4 linked regions of the Homo sapiens genome follow. The protein of the gene in region 1 interacts with the protein of each later gene in a biochemical or structural test. Each region holds a gene or a part of one and is shown on either strand. Other genes may lie near its edges.

Region 1 (3,500 bases):
AGCCGGGCGTGATGGTGCACACCTGTAATCCCAGCTACTTGGGAGGCTGAGGCACGAGAATTGCTTGAACCCAGGAGGCAGAGGTTGCAGTGAGCCGAGATCGCACCACTGCACTCCAGCCTGAGCAACAGAGCAAGGCTTCATCTCAAAAAAAAAAGAAAGAAAAAAACATCCTGCTGTGGGTCTCCATCAGGATGGAGCCCAAGCACCCGAGGAGGGCACATAGGGTCTTCCCTCTATCTCCCCTGCACCCCACTCTGCGGTTCACTCCAGCTTTCACTCACGGCTGGCACGTCTCCAAATGCCCGGGCCGGGTCCCACCTCCACACCTTTGCAGGTGCTGTGCCCTTTCTCTAGGATGCCACCCCTGCAGCAAACCTTTTTCAGCTGTCTCCACTTCTGTGAAGGCCCCCCAGCCTTCCCTCCACACCACACTGTGAAAACAGCCAGGACATGTGCCAAGTGTTTACTGCGTGCCCAGCGCGGGGCTGCCACGCTGCAGGCAATGCCCATTTTGACCCTCACCACAAGCTTCTCACACTGGGACTACTGATATCGCCCATTCTGAAGATGGGCAGTGAAGGCACAGAGAGGTTGCAAGTTGGCCCGAGGTGGCAGAGCTAGTGGAGGAGGCAGGCTGGGAACTGCTAGAGAACAGGACCCTCTTGGCCCTGCCTGTCCTCCGCCCTGGCCTGTGGGCCCTTGGGGCTGAGGCAGCAGCTTGCTCATCCTTGTGTCCTGGGCCCAGCACTCAGGGGTCGCTCAGTGTTTGAACTGTGGCCTCTGGGACTGGGTCTCCGCCTGTTGAACCCCTGGATGACCACGACATGGAGGTCGGGCTGACATCATCATTAACGGAAGTGAGAACCGAGGCTCAGAAAAGTTAAGTAACCTAACAAAGCCACACGGCAAGTGAGGAAAGCCCAGCTCCCCCGGCGGTCCCAGAGAGTGCCTGGGGATGGCTTGTCCTGTGGGTGAGTGGGTCTCACATTCAGGAGGGCACTGGAGGCCAGGGGGCTGGGGGCTTGGCTGGGATGGGAGAAAAGCCTGCGACACTCTGCCCTGGGACTCCTGAAACCTGAAGGCCAGCAGGCCTGACAAGGGATGCTGGTGGCAGCCTGTGTCTGGAGCAGAGCCCTGCCCGCCTAGTCCCCACTGCGCCTGGAGAGAGGATCAGGGCCGCCCTGCCAAGTTAGAAGGGAGAGCTGGGAGGAAGCTATGGCACCCCCGCCTCCATCCTGGAAGGCAGCCCCTTCCCACCTCACCGTGGGGTCCCGCCAGCCCCATGCTCTGCTGCTTACCGGGCCAGCACCTGCTGCTGGTCCACAACGGGCAGCGGGTCATCAGTCAGCACTGCCACCTCCATGCCCACGCTCTCCCTCTTCACACCAGCTGTGGCCGGCAGGGGCTCAGGCTGAGCCACCAGGGCCACCGGGGCCTGAGCCTCCAACCACACGCCAGGCTCTGCTGTCCGCACCACCTCTAAGGCCACTTCCGAGGCCAGATCTACCTCCTGAGTGTGAAGAGAAACCCAGGTGGAGGTGGGAAGGCCGCCCCAACCCCCGCCGACAGCTCCCAGGTGGCTCAATCCCAGACGGGGCCATTCCGCCTGCTGCAGCCCCGACAGATCACCTCCAGCTCAGGGACACCAGTGACACAAAAACACGCCCTGTTGAGTTCTTACTGCCGCTATTCCCACTGACACCCCCACGCTAGGAGGAAGGCTCCCAGCTTCCTCTCTCACCTCCCACAATCCAGTCTCCACAGGCAGCCAGGGCCATCTTAAAATAGAAACCGATCACATCCCGTTCCCGATGAGCCCCATGTGACTTCCCGTCACGTTCGCAGGAAAGTCCACTTTCCTCCCTGCCGGCTCCCTGCCTCCACGGCCTCCCCCGCCACCGTGGCCTCCTTTTCCATTGCTAAGAAAGTCAAGGTCTTTCCAGCCATAGGACCTTGGCACTTGCTATCCCCTCTGCTTGCTGCTTCCCCCCGTCCCTCCTTCACGCCTGGGTCCCACCCCAGAGTCACTTCCTAGCCAGGGCTGCCCCGGCTGCTCCATCTACGCCCTGCTGAGAGCCTGCTGCAGGCCCGGTGCCCAGCCCACACTTGAGTCCAAACTGTCTTCTTCCTCTATAAATGTAGGGAGATTTAAAGCTTCCTCTCCTTTTGCTCCCCTGGGGTGTTCAAATTGGGTTCCCCGATGGTGTCATAGGGGCCACCAGCCCTGACCTGCAGCCCTCGTCCTTTGCACACACTGGGCCTCAATTCCTTTACACAAAGGGCGACAAGGCTAAGGAAGGTTTGAAAGCCACCATCTAGAACAACAGGCCACTTTCACTCCATAAGAAGAAGATGATGGTTCCTCCCACTGCACACTGCCTGGCCACGGGCCACAAGCCCGGGGAAGGCTGGAGTTGTTGTTCTCAGCTCATGGATGAGGAAACTGAAGCTCAGGGAGGGAGAAGACAAGCTGGAGTTTCCCAGGAAGTTGAAGAGAACCCCGTCCCCCACATGGAGGCCCGGGGAGGTACTCACAGGCCTGGGCGGGAAGTCATCAGCCGCCTCGGCTTCGGGCCTGGCATCACTGGGCTCCAGCAGGTCTGTCGGCGCAGGGACCTGGGAGGAAAGAGGGGATGGAGGAGAAAGAAGGCTGATTTGGGCCAGAACCATCCTTTACTCCCTCACCCCTGGCCTCACTTCAACTCCCCAAGGCCTCCCACCACCCCCCAACCTCCCCTGCCTGTCACTCCCGAGAGAAGGAGCACAAAGGAGGGAAGAGATGAGGGAGAGAACAGGGAAGAGAGGAAACGGAAGACAGGCGTGTGGTGGGCACCTGCTGTGTGCCAGGAGCGTTGCCTGCATCCACTCCTCTGAAGCAACCTCATTTTACAGATGAGGAAACCCAGCCCAGAAAGGTCACACAACCAAGGAAGTGGTAGACCTGGGATCTCTCTCTCTAAATACACACACACAGACACACACACACAAAATACACACACACACACACAGAGGAAAGGAAAGCAGAGAACAAAGAGAGGAGAAAATAGGACTTTTTTTTTCTTTGAGATGGAGTCTCGCTCTGTCGCCCAGGCTGGAGCACAGTGGTGCGATCTTGGCTCACTGCAACCTCCGTCTCCCGGGTTCAAGTGATCCTCCTGCCTCAGCCTCCTGAGTAGCTGGGATTACAGGTGCACGCCACCACACCTGGCTAATTTTTATATTTTAGGTAGAAATGGGGTTTCACTTCACCATGTTGGCCAGGCCGGTCTTGAACTCCTGGCCTCAGGTGATCCACCCACCTCGGTCTCCCAAAGTTCTGGGATTACAGGCGTGAGCCAATGTGCCTGGCCAAGAGGAACATTGTTTTAAAAACAAGAGGGTTGTTGAAAAGGGAGAAGATGTTGGTCAGGGGGCCAGATGGAGGAAGAGCAGTATCCCAGAAGCCTCGTGGTCACTGAAAGGTGGCTGGATTCCCACAGACCCCCCACCCAGCTCAC
Region 2 (3,500 bases), about 140 Mb from region 1:
TGAACAGCAAGCCTAGTGTCCTTCATTTTCTTTTTGCTTCTAGTCAAACCAGGCAATGTGAGGAACATCATTCAGCACTTTGAGAACAACCAGCAGTATGATGCCCCAGAACCTGGGACACAACGACTCTCGACCGGAAGCTTTCCTGAGGACCTGCTGGAGAGTGACAGGTAGCACTGGCTGGATGGGACTCGCCAGCTGCTCGAAGAGTGGGTCATGGGCAGGGCTGATGCTAGGGTTTAATTCCAGCTACTTGACCCCTCTCCACTAGCTTCTAAGGCTCCCTTTACAGAACTTCCTCCCCACCCCCAGTATCTTCAGGAGACACATTGTGTGCCAGTGAACAGGCCAGTGGAAGAGCAAGCAGATCCCCGACTTCCAGCCCAAGAACTACACACTTTTCAAATTCCCTTTGGATTTATCACCTGACTACTCAGTAGCCTTCATCCAAGATCGAGCTAGGTGATAAAAAGCAGCTAATCAGGAAACCCTAAGTGACAAGGATAAGGAAGACTATAGTGGGGGCAAGAGGGAGTCCTGGGGAAAAAAGACCCAGGCAGGCAAAAGAAAGTGGTTTCCTGTCTGTATGTGAAGAAGAGAGCCAGAGATGAGGTTCTGCTGGGTACTTTAAAGACAAATGATGTAACTATAGGCATCAGATGTCCACCTCAGCAAAGAGAGGCAAAGTGGATTGATTACAAATGGACTGTTTTTCCCTTTTCAAGAAGAAAAAGGGGAATTGAGACTGGCATCTCTCATATTCTTCTTTGGTCAGGTTCTAACTAGAGTCCCCATCTGGTATGAAAACTTGTTCTTGGACTTACTTGCTCTTGATTGTGGCATGACAGCAGTCAAGTCATGTCTAAAATTCTATAGCCAACACTTAAAAACCAACACCACCCTTAAAGGTGACTTAAACAGGTAGAGTAATATGGTCTTGTGTGGGGGGAAATAATGCTTGTGTACAGTCAAGCCTCAGAGCCACTGAGCTGGAGTATAGGCAGGCATGAAAGCAAGTCAGTATGCAGCAGCGTGGATATTCAAGCCATTTTGCCTTCGTTTGTTTGTTTGTTTGTTTTGGGGATTTTTTTTTCTTTTTTAAAGAGACAGGATCTTTCTCTGTCACCCAGGCTGGATTGCAGTGGTGCAATCATAGCTCACTGCAGCCTCAAACTCCTGGGTTCAAGGGATCCTCCCACCTCAGCCTCCTGAGTAACTAGGGATACAGGCATGCACCACTGCACCTGGCTAATTGATTTTTATTTTTATTTTTTTGAGACAGTCTCACTATGTTGCCCAGCTTGGTCTCGAACTCCCAACCACAGCAATCTTCCTGCCTCAGCCTCCCAAAGTGCTAGGATTATAGGCATGAGCCACTGCACCTGGCCTATTTTGCCTTTGAAATAACTAATTATCAAACCATAAGCCAACCTTTCCTGCTTGAATGCAGGTTACTCCTTTCTGTTTATATGAAGCCTTTTTTCAGCTTAACACGTGTTAAAAGATTTTGCTGCCATGAGAATTGACAGATTTACAGGAGACAAAGGTTAGATTTGTACTGGGGGAAGGTTGAGTTCTAACATTAATGGGTAAGTTAAATACGCAAATTATGTGATTCCTGTGGAAGCACATGATGTCGTAGATATATCAAATATTTTAAGATTATAAGACATCAACATTTTGAGAAAATATTTGAGACCATTTACAAAGTTGCATTCTTGGCATTGCTAGGTAAATTTGCCCTAAGACACTTGCTAGGATCCTAAAGCTACTCTAAGCAGAAGCCTTTGGGTTTGATGATTATCAACTCATTGGCAATCTCAGAAGAAATAGTATTAGCAATATGGTGGGTCAGAGATTGTTGTAGATACTCAACAGGTATAAGATGCCCCAGTTCTAGAAGGCAATACCCTAGGAATTTGGGGGCAAAGACAGATGATATGCCTCACTTCTTGGTGAGGAGCATTACTTACTTCTGGGTGCTTGAAGGAAGGTGCTTAGCTCTGCAGCCCCAGTAACTCCACTGGGTGTTTGTTGTGGTGGTACAGTGACCCATTAGGACACTGAAAAGTGTTCCGAGTTAGTCTGGGTTGGGATTGTTCTAACACAATTCTGGAGGGTGAATTCAATAAGGGATCAGTGGGCAGTATGTTTTCTAACCCTGCAGACAAAACCCTCAGGACCCTAGGAGATGAGCTCCATTTTGGATCATCTGGCAGTTTGGGCACAATGAATGGAGACCGAGACATTTAGCTCCTCATTGCAGCAACCTGCTGTGCTATTAAGAGCTCTGCAGACATTTCCAGGCCTCCTGTGGTCCTAGAAGCAGAGCAGGATGTAGATTACTAATAATATCAGAAAACCAGCCCAACAGGGCCACAGCATGGAGGTGGGGTGACCATCCTGGGGCAGCTAGGGGTCAGAGGTGCCAGCTGTCTTGGGCTGATGCACTGCAGGACTCGACACCGCAACACCCAGTCATCAGCATCTCATCAAACCCCAGAGACACTCAGTAGCCAAGCACGGCAGGCCAAGGAGCGGGTCCTGCCTATCAGTAAAAAGGCCCCTTTAAGCACAAGCCTGTCTGCTCTTGAGAGGAAATGGAATCTTAGGAACAGTATTGTTAAGATAAGAATGGAACTCATCCACATCACAACTGGAAGGCTAAGAATCCAGCAGCAGATAGAACTTTCTGACAGGCAGTGTGGAAAATCCTAAAATGAGCTGTGAATATAGTGACTCCACTTTCCTCTTAAGACCTCTTAAAAGAGGTTCGCCTCAGGCAGAGTTAAAGGTGGGAGCTGACCCGTTCCAAAGCAGAGGCAACGTGAACTGGCCACTAGGGGCAGGGAGCTGGGACCTTGTGTTCCCTGTTGAGGGACGATGATGTCTACCACCTTCTTGACAGAAGCATGGTGTCTCAGGCCTCTGGACACACTACAACTCAGAGTCTGTTAGCCCCAGATTTCATCTTCCTGTTAGGATCCCTTCCTAATAGCTCCAGAGGAAGATGACTGTCCATCCATCAGGCTAGGCTGGGGAGAGAGGAGGAGTTTGTAGAGCAGCAAAAATAGTCTGTCATTGAGAAGCTTCCACTGCCATCCAGCTGCTTTGGCCATGTTCAGGAGGAGAACCTGTGGCACGGAGGCATCTTTGAGATGGAGCCACAGGTAAGAGTTAGCCAGGATGTAAGCATGGCCCACTGACTTCCCAAGTCCCAAAGTCTTTTGTCCCTTCCCCCCAGTTCACGCTCAGAGATTCGCCTGGGCCGCTCTGAAAGCCTCAAGGGCCGGGAAGAGATGAAACGGTCTCGAAAGGCAGAGAACGTGCCCCGCTCTCGCAGTGATGTTGACATGGATGCTGCTGCGGAGGCTACTCGCCTGCACCAGTCAGCCTCGTCCTCTACCTCCAGCCTCTCCACCAGGTGGGCAGGGCTACAACGGCTGCACCCATGGACATCTCAGGGGTGGCGGCAAGGATAGAGGGTTGCTGAGAGTTGA
Region 3 (3,500 bases), on another chromosome or scaffold:
ACATCCACTAGGATATCAAAAGACTGAAGATAGAAGTTTTGTACTATCATTACAACATTTATCTTAATTTCCTAAAAACTATGGTAAAACTCTGACGATCCTTGACCGTCTCTGAATTCAATGAGGAAAACACTCAATATCTTCCTCCATGAAGTAGGGAATATTAAATCTCACCTTACAAGGAAAAGAACAATTAATGTTCTGGAATAACGGCCTATTGAAATCTCACCTTTAAGGGTAAAAGACATGTTGTATATTTACATTTGTAGATATGAATGAAGCCTTTTAATAATAGAACCAAGGGTCAGATGGAATTAAGCTATACTTCCCTACCCCCAGATGGTATTACATTTTATCAAATAGCAATTACAGTTTATGCAGTATCAATTTTGTTAAGGTCGGTTCTCCTAACCCAAGGAATTCTTACACCTGAAGCCTAAATCAATAAGTACTATATTTGGGTAGTTGAAAAACTGTATTTACATAAGTGATGCTACAAGCCATTAAGTTAAAAAACAGAGACGAGCCTCCCACCCCCGCCCCACCCAAAACCAGACAGTACAGTAATGTGTCTTTGCGTGATTCTTTCTCTTTAGGACCTGAAAACAAGGGGAAGCATAACCTCCTTGGCCCAGATTGGAACTGTATACCCCAAATGACCACCTTTATTGGCGAAGGGGAACAAGAAGCCCAGATAACATACATAGATTCAAAGCAGAAGACGGTGGAGATCACAGACAGCACCATGTGTCCAAAAGAGCACCGGCACTTGTACATAGACAATGCCTATAGTTCAGATGGACTTAACCAGCAGCTGAGCCAGCCCGGGGAGGCCCCCTGTGAGGCAGACTACAGAAGTCTAGCTCAGCGGTCCCTATTGACCCTCTCAGGACCAGAAACTCTGAAGAAAGCACAGGAATCTCCGAGAGGAGCTAAAGTGTCCTTTATTTTTGGAGACTTCGCCTTGGATGATGGTATTAGTCCCCCAACCCTTGGCTATGAAACGCTACTAGATGAGGGTCCTGAAATGCTGGAGAAGCAGAGAAATCTCTACATTGGCAGTGCCAATGACATGAAGGGCCTGGATCTCACTCCAGAGGCAGAGGGCATCCAGTTTGTGGAAAATTCTGTTTATGCAAACATAGGCGATGTGAAGAGCTTCCAGGCCGCGGAGGGGATCGAGGAACCCCTCTTGCATGACATCTGTTATGCAGAAAACACTGATGACGCGGAGGACGAGGACGAGGTGAGCTGCGAGGAGGACCTCGTGGTGGGGGAGATGAACCAGCCGGCCATCCTCAACCTGTCTGGGTCAAGCGATGACATCATTGACCTCACATCCCTGCCCCCTCCAGAAGGTGATGACAATGAGGATGACTTCCTGTTGCGTTCCTTGAACATGGCCATTGCCGCACCCCCACCTGGCTTTAGAGACAGTTCAGATGAAGAGGACTCTCAGAGCCAGGCAGCTTCCTTCCCCGAGGACAAGGAGAAAGGCAGCAGCCTGCAAAATGATGAGATCCCCGTGTCCCTCATTGACGCTGTGCCCACCAGCGCCGAAGGCAAGTGTGAGAAGGGACTGGATAATGCCGTCGTCTCCACGCTGGGAGCTCTAGAGGCTCTATCCGTGTCAGAAGAACAGCAGACCAGTGACAATTCAGGTTCTTTCACAATTGTTACATTCATTCACTGATAACCATATCATTCCATCCTTCCAAGCCATTTGCCCCTGGAGTCCTGTTACGTGGTGTTCTCCATTTCACACATGTCCCATTTCATAAATGTGCTGAAACTGCCATCATGGGTTTTTTTGTGTGTATGTGATTTCCTTTGTTATTTTTTTTTAAAAACATAAGGCACATCTCCCCCCACCCCCATTTCTGGAAAAACTGCAATAAACTCAGAGTCCTTACTGAAAAGGGAAAAACTTGGTATTTTGTTTTAGTAATAACGAGTCCCATTTTCTTACATGTCTCCAAGTGCCTCTGATGCATCCATTAATCAGTTCTTGTTTTTTACGGCATGCAGGTGTAGCCATCTTGCGGGCTTATAGTCCTGAGTCTTCGTCAGACTCGGGCAATGAAACTAACTCTTCTGAAATGACTGAGAGTTCTGAACTGGCCACAGCACAAAAACAGTCAGAAAACCTCTCCCGCATGTTCTTGGCCACTCACGAAGGCTACCACCCCCTTGCAGAAGAGCAGACCGAGTTCCCGGCCTCCAAGACCCCCGCTGGGGGCTTGCCTCCAAAGTCCTCGCACGCCCTGGCTGCTAGGCCAGCAACCGACCTCCCGCCCAAAGTTGTGCCTTCCAAGCAGTTACTTCACTCAGACCACATGGAGATGGAGCCTGAAACTATGGAGACTAAGTCGGTCACTGACTATTTTAGCAAACTGCACATGGGGTCGGTGGCATACTCCTGCACTAGCAAAAGGAAAAGCAAGCTGGCCGATGGTGAGGGGAAGGCACCCCCTAATGGGAACACAACAGGAAAAAAACAGCAGGGGACCAAAACGGCAGAGATGGAGGAGGAGGCCAGTGGTAAATTTGGTACTGTGTCTTCACGAGACAGTCAACACCTGAGCACTTTTAATCTGGAGAGAACTGCCTTTCGCAAGGACAGTCAAAGATGGTATGTGGCCACTGAAGGTGGGATGGCTGAAAAAAGTGGATTAGAAGCAGCAACAGGGAAAACCTTTCCAAGAGCTTCTGGTCTTGGGGCAAGGGAGGCCGAAGGGAAGGAAGAAGGAGCTCCTGATGGAGAAACCAGTGATGGCTCAGGACTTGGTCAAGGGGACCGCTTCTTAACTGACGTGACCTGTGCATCTTCAGCCAAAGACTTAGATAACCCAGAGGACGCTGACTCGTCCACCTGCGACCATCCTTCCAAGCTTCCTGAGGCTGATGAGAGTGTGGCCCGCCTTTGTGACTACCACTTGGCCAAGCGGATGTCATCACTGCAAAGCGAGGGCCATTTTTCTCTGCAGAGCTCCCAAGGCTCTTCAGTGGATGCAGGCTGTGGCACAGGCAGCAGTGGCAGTGCCTGTGCCACACCCGTGGAGTCGCCGCTCTGCCCCTCCCTGGGGAAGCACTTGATTCCTGACGCTTCTGGGAAAGGCGTGAATTACATTCCTTCAGAGGAGAGAGCCCCTGGGCTTCCCAACCACGGAGCCACCTTTAAGGAACTGCACCCACAGACAGAAGGGATGTGTCCACGGATGACAGTGCCTGCTCTGCACACAGCCATTAACACCGAACCCCTGTTTGGCACATTGAGAGATGGATGCCATCGGCTCCCCAAGATTAAGGAAACCACAGGTACAGCAATGATGGATTTAGCACTTTGTATGACATGCCAAGAGCATGTAAACCATATTTACAACAAACTTAAAAACGTAATGTCTGGAAGAAAAGTAAAAGGTAGAATTTTAAAAGGCCACAGAACTGTAAAGTACCAATCATTGATCCCCTGGTATTTAATAAATACTAAAGATTATAAA
Region 4 (3,368 bases), on another chromosome or scaffold:
TGGTCCCAGGCCAGGCTGCCTGGGACACGGTAAATACCACTGTGTGCAAAAATCGAAGTACAAAACCACAAGACTAAACAAAACAAACCCAGAGAGCCAAACTTGTAGAGGTGGGCAGTCCAGAAAGCAGGGGGCAGCCCTCCCCCTTTCCTTCTCTCCCTGATCCTCAGAATATATATTGTTGTAATAGGAAGCATTTTTGCATTGTTCTCTTGTGGGTGTCACTACAGACATGTTCTGGCGTGTTCTCCGAGGGATGGAGCATCCTGTTATATATTTGACTTCAAATTGAGATGTTGGCTTCATTTTTTTTTTTTACCCAATTAATCTCCCAATCCCTAGCAACTGTGACTCTGTATTTAGCACAAGAGAAAGCTGAGAATGTGGGTCTTGCCTCCTTCCAGAAATATGTCTGGCTCATCAGGACATTTTTTTAAAACTTCAAAATATTTTTAAGATATTTTAAACTTTTATAAAAAAAAAATCAACCAACAAGAGACTTTTCTGAGGAGGAACATTTGTATTTGAACAAGATCCTTGGTGTGTAGTTCAGTCTTGCAGTATACAAGCTTTTGTGTATAAATGTTTTATGATATGATTCCCTGTATTTTGCAGGGGTTTTTTTCTCTTTTGCTTTTTAGATAAATATGTATATCAATATTTTAAATTCATCTTTGCTTTTTTTAGAGGAGTTTGTAATCACCTTATAACATGAAAATAAACATTTCCTTTTTAACATCCAACATGTGTGGGTTGTGTTCTGGTGAGGTATTTCCCCCTCAACGTTTGCCAAACGCTTTACATTTTATAAAGGGCTTCCCGTCCAATCCCAGGACGCTCCTCAAAGGTAGGTATTTTCCCAGGTTAGAGGTTCCCACATGGAGGCTCACAGAGGAAGCAGCTTGCTCACTCAGGGGTACACAGCAAGTCCATGAAAGAACCTGGATTCGCACCCGGGCCCATGAGCTCTTGGCTCTACTGGCTCTACTGATTCTACCTGCTACATGCCCAGCCCTGTACAGCTGGGAGATCTGGCAGCAGTCACCTGAGCCTCAGTTTCCCCATCTGGAATAAACCATTGTCCCCATCAAGGCCACCAGGATGATTGGAGGTGATGCTCTTGGCCTTAGGTGCTCACCTGCTGCGGCTTTCAGTCCCTCCTCTTTAGCCTTGGGCTGACCTGCCAGAAGGGCAGAAAGCGGGTGGCGGAGTGGGGGAAAGGGTAGAGGGGGAGCAAACCTGATTGCCCTTCTCCCACTCCCCCACCGTCAGGTGCAGGCGCTCATTAATACCCAGTTAGGGGCTCTCTGGGGTCACAACAGGTCCATGTTTGGGGCAGCCTTCCTGCCAACAGCGCCCCCCACCCTTTGGGATGGACAAACTCGGGAGTCAGTTGAGCCCTTTGCCCAACTAACCAGACAAAATTCTCAGTAACTCATTTATAGACAATGTTAGAATAGAAGACCACCCTACCCCCATTTTCTGGCTCTTTCTGACAGCCTATGCCTACCTGCCTGCCTCTCTCTATGTGTACTGGGCCATGTGGCTTGTGTTCAAGCCCTGGTTCCATCCCTTACTACCTGTGTGGACTTGGGCAAATTACGTAACCTCTCTGTGCCTGTTTCCTCATCTGTAATGATGGGACAGGAATAGAGCCCACCTCCAAAGGCTATTGGGAGGATCCAGCAAGCTCTTGCAAAGCGCTTAGAGCAAGGCCTGCTGCCTCCCTTGGCCTTCCCCCTGCCTACACCACTCCCAAGACAGAGTACTCGCTTCCTGGAAAGAAGCTCTTCCTCTGCTCACAGAACTGTGGCCTCCCCAGTGGGGCCTGGCCCTGGCCTCTGGGTCCCAGACCCTGTAGCTCACCTGCCCTAGACACTCTCTGGACACTCCAGGGCAGCAGCCAGACCTGAGGCTGCCCTCCTGCCACTACCTTCCCAACCTGGGCTAAAGAGACTCCATATGCAGGCACCACTGCCTGCCTCTGGCTTTCTGCTGCGCAGAGAATCAAATTTGCTCCCCCTACCCAAGCCTTCACGACTGATTCCTGCTACCTCCAACCTAGTCTCCAGCCCCATTCCCCTCCCAGGCCTTCTTTCTCTTCCTTGAGACCGTCAAACTCGTTCCTATCTCAGGGCCTTTGCACTAGCTGTGCCCGCTGCCTGAGACACTCTTCCTCCAGGTCTCCATGGAGGCTGGCTCCTGTCTTCAGGTCTCATTGCAAATGTCGCCTCTTGAGAGAAACCCCTCCTAATATTGTGAGCTAAAGCCCCTCACCCTGGTCCCTCTATCCCGTTACTCCCTTGTTTTCTTTGTTGCACTTGATGCCTTTTGAAATAATTATTTATTTGCTTACTTGTTGATTGTCTGCCTGCCACCAGAATGTGCAGACATGACCTAAATCTGTCTGATTCATGTTGCCCAGGGGCTGGATGATGGAAGCAAATGGCAAACTTTTTGAATTAATGAATCATCAAAAGCAGGTGAGATGTCACCAGACCCATACAGAAGCTGACTCTTGCCAATCCATGATTTTTTTAAAAAGCAAACTTCTACTCTAGGTGGATTTAAATAATTTTATTTTAAAAAATCATCCCCATGGCACCTACCCCCAAGCCACTGCAACCCCTGGTGGGACAAAGACTTAGACGAGGGCCCCAAACAGACCATAAGCGGCCTTTGCAATACAGCCCCTTGTGCTTCCCGAGAGCCCTAAGAAAACCCGATGTAGAAAAATACTTTACAAGGAATGTGTTCTAATCTCAGCCAGAGAAAAATACAGCTTTGGGGGAGAGGGCAGGTGGAAGGGGACATGTCACAGGGGCTGTTCCCAAAATGCATAGGCAGGCAGGGCGCTCACTGGGGAAAGGTGTCAGGAAATTTCAAGTCGGGGATGAACCATCCCCATGAGAAGCCAGAAGAAATATTGCATATGAGGAGGCCGGCATGGCTGGGAGGCCCACCGCGGGCCTGATTGCATACTTTTGGGAGAATGGCAGAGGCCTCAGCCCGAGGAGGGAGGGGGGTATTAGTTAGAGTCGGGTGCATCTTCCCTCGCCTGGAGTCCTGGAGTCAATGCAGTTTTCCCAAGCCGAGAGGCCCTGAGAGTGTGTCCTGTCCAGCCCTGTTGCTTAGCAGAGGTCCAGAGAGGCTGAGCCACCTGTCCAAGGTCACACAGCTATGGCTGCTTGCATCCAGAAGCCACACCTCTGCTGTGCTGTCCCTCACCCTCAAAAGTGAGGGCTCTTGGCTTTCACTTGGTGCCCTGTGACAGGTAGACAGTGCCCTTTCACTCTGGGCTGAGTACACGGGAATCCAAGATAGCAGAGGCGCTGAGCACCCCAGGCACAAGCATGCAGGGCCCTCAG

Evidence for each region. Proteins that work in one complex are often made in the same cells at the same time.
Region 2: the proteins of KIF17 (region 1) and ARHGEF11 interact in a test that uses a peptide from one of them, tested with the Homo sapiens proteins (one large-scale study listed by IntAct).
Region 3: the proteins of KIF17 (region 1) and FRMPD4 interact in a test that uses a peptide from one of them, tested with the Homo sapiens proteins (one large-scale study listed by IntAct).
Region 4: the proteins of KIF17 (region 1) and GRIP2 interact in a test that uses a peptide from one of them, tested with the Homo sapiens proteins (one large-scale study listed by IntAct).

Annotation. Positions count from the first base shown.
Region 1 is NC_000001.11:20,683,508-20,687,007, forward strand, and holds part of KIF17 (kinesin-like protein KIF17), read right to left. Parts: intron 2,620-3,500; coding exon 2,539-2,619; intron 1,514-2,538; coding exon 1,302-1,513; intron 1-1,301. UniProt on the Homo sapiens protein: Dendrite-specific motor protein which, in association with the Apba1-containing complex (LIN-10-LIN-2-LIN-7 complex), transports vesicles containing N-methyl-D-aspartate (NMDA) receptor subunit NR2B along microtubules.
Region 2 is NC_000001.11:156,948,243-156,951,742, reverse strand, and holds part of ARHGEF11 (rho guanine nucleotide exchange factor 11), read left to right. Parts: intron 1-43; coding exon 44-170; intron 171-1,725; exon of another isoform or gene 1,726-3,117; coding exon of another isoform or gene 3,118-3,170; intron 3,171-3,223; coding exon of another isoform or gene 3,224-3,244; coding exon 3,245-3,424; intron 3,425-3,500. UniProt on the Homo sapiens protein: May play a role in the regulation of RhoA GTPase by guanine nucleotide-binding alpha-12 (GNA12) and alpha-13 (GNA13). Acts as guanine nucleotide exchange factor (GEF) for RhoA GTPase and may act as GTPase-activating protein (GAP) for GNA12 and GNA13.
Region 3 is NC_000023.11:12,715,473-12,718,972, forward strand, and holds part of FRMPD4 (FERM and PDZ domain-containing protein 4), read left to right. Parts: intron 1-596; coding exon 597-1,661; intron 1,662-2,028; coding exon 2,029-3,318; intron 3,319-3,500. UniProt on the Homo sapiens protein: Positive regulator of dendritic spine morphogenesis and density. Required for the maintenance of excitatory synaptic transmission. Binds phosphatidylinositol 4,5-bisphosphate.
Region 4 is NC_000003.12:14,488,607-14,491,974, forward strand, and holds the end of GRIP2 (glutamate receptor-interacting protein 2), read right to left. Parts: 3' UTR 501-3,368; downstream 1-500.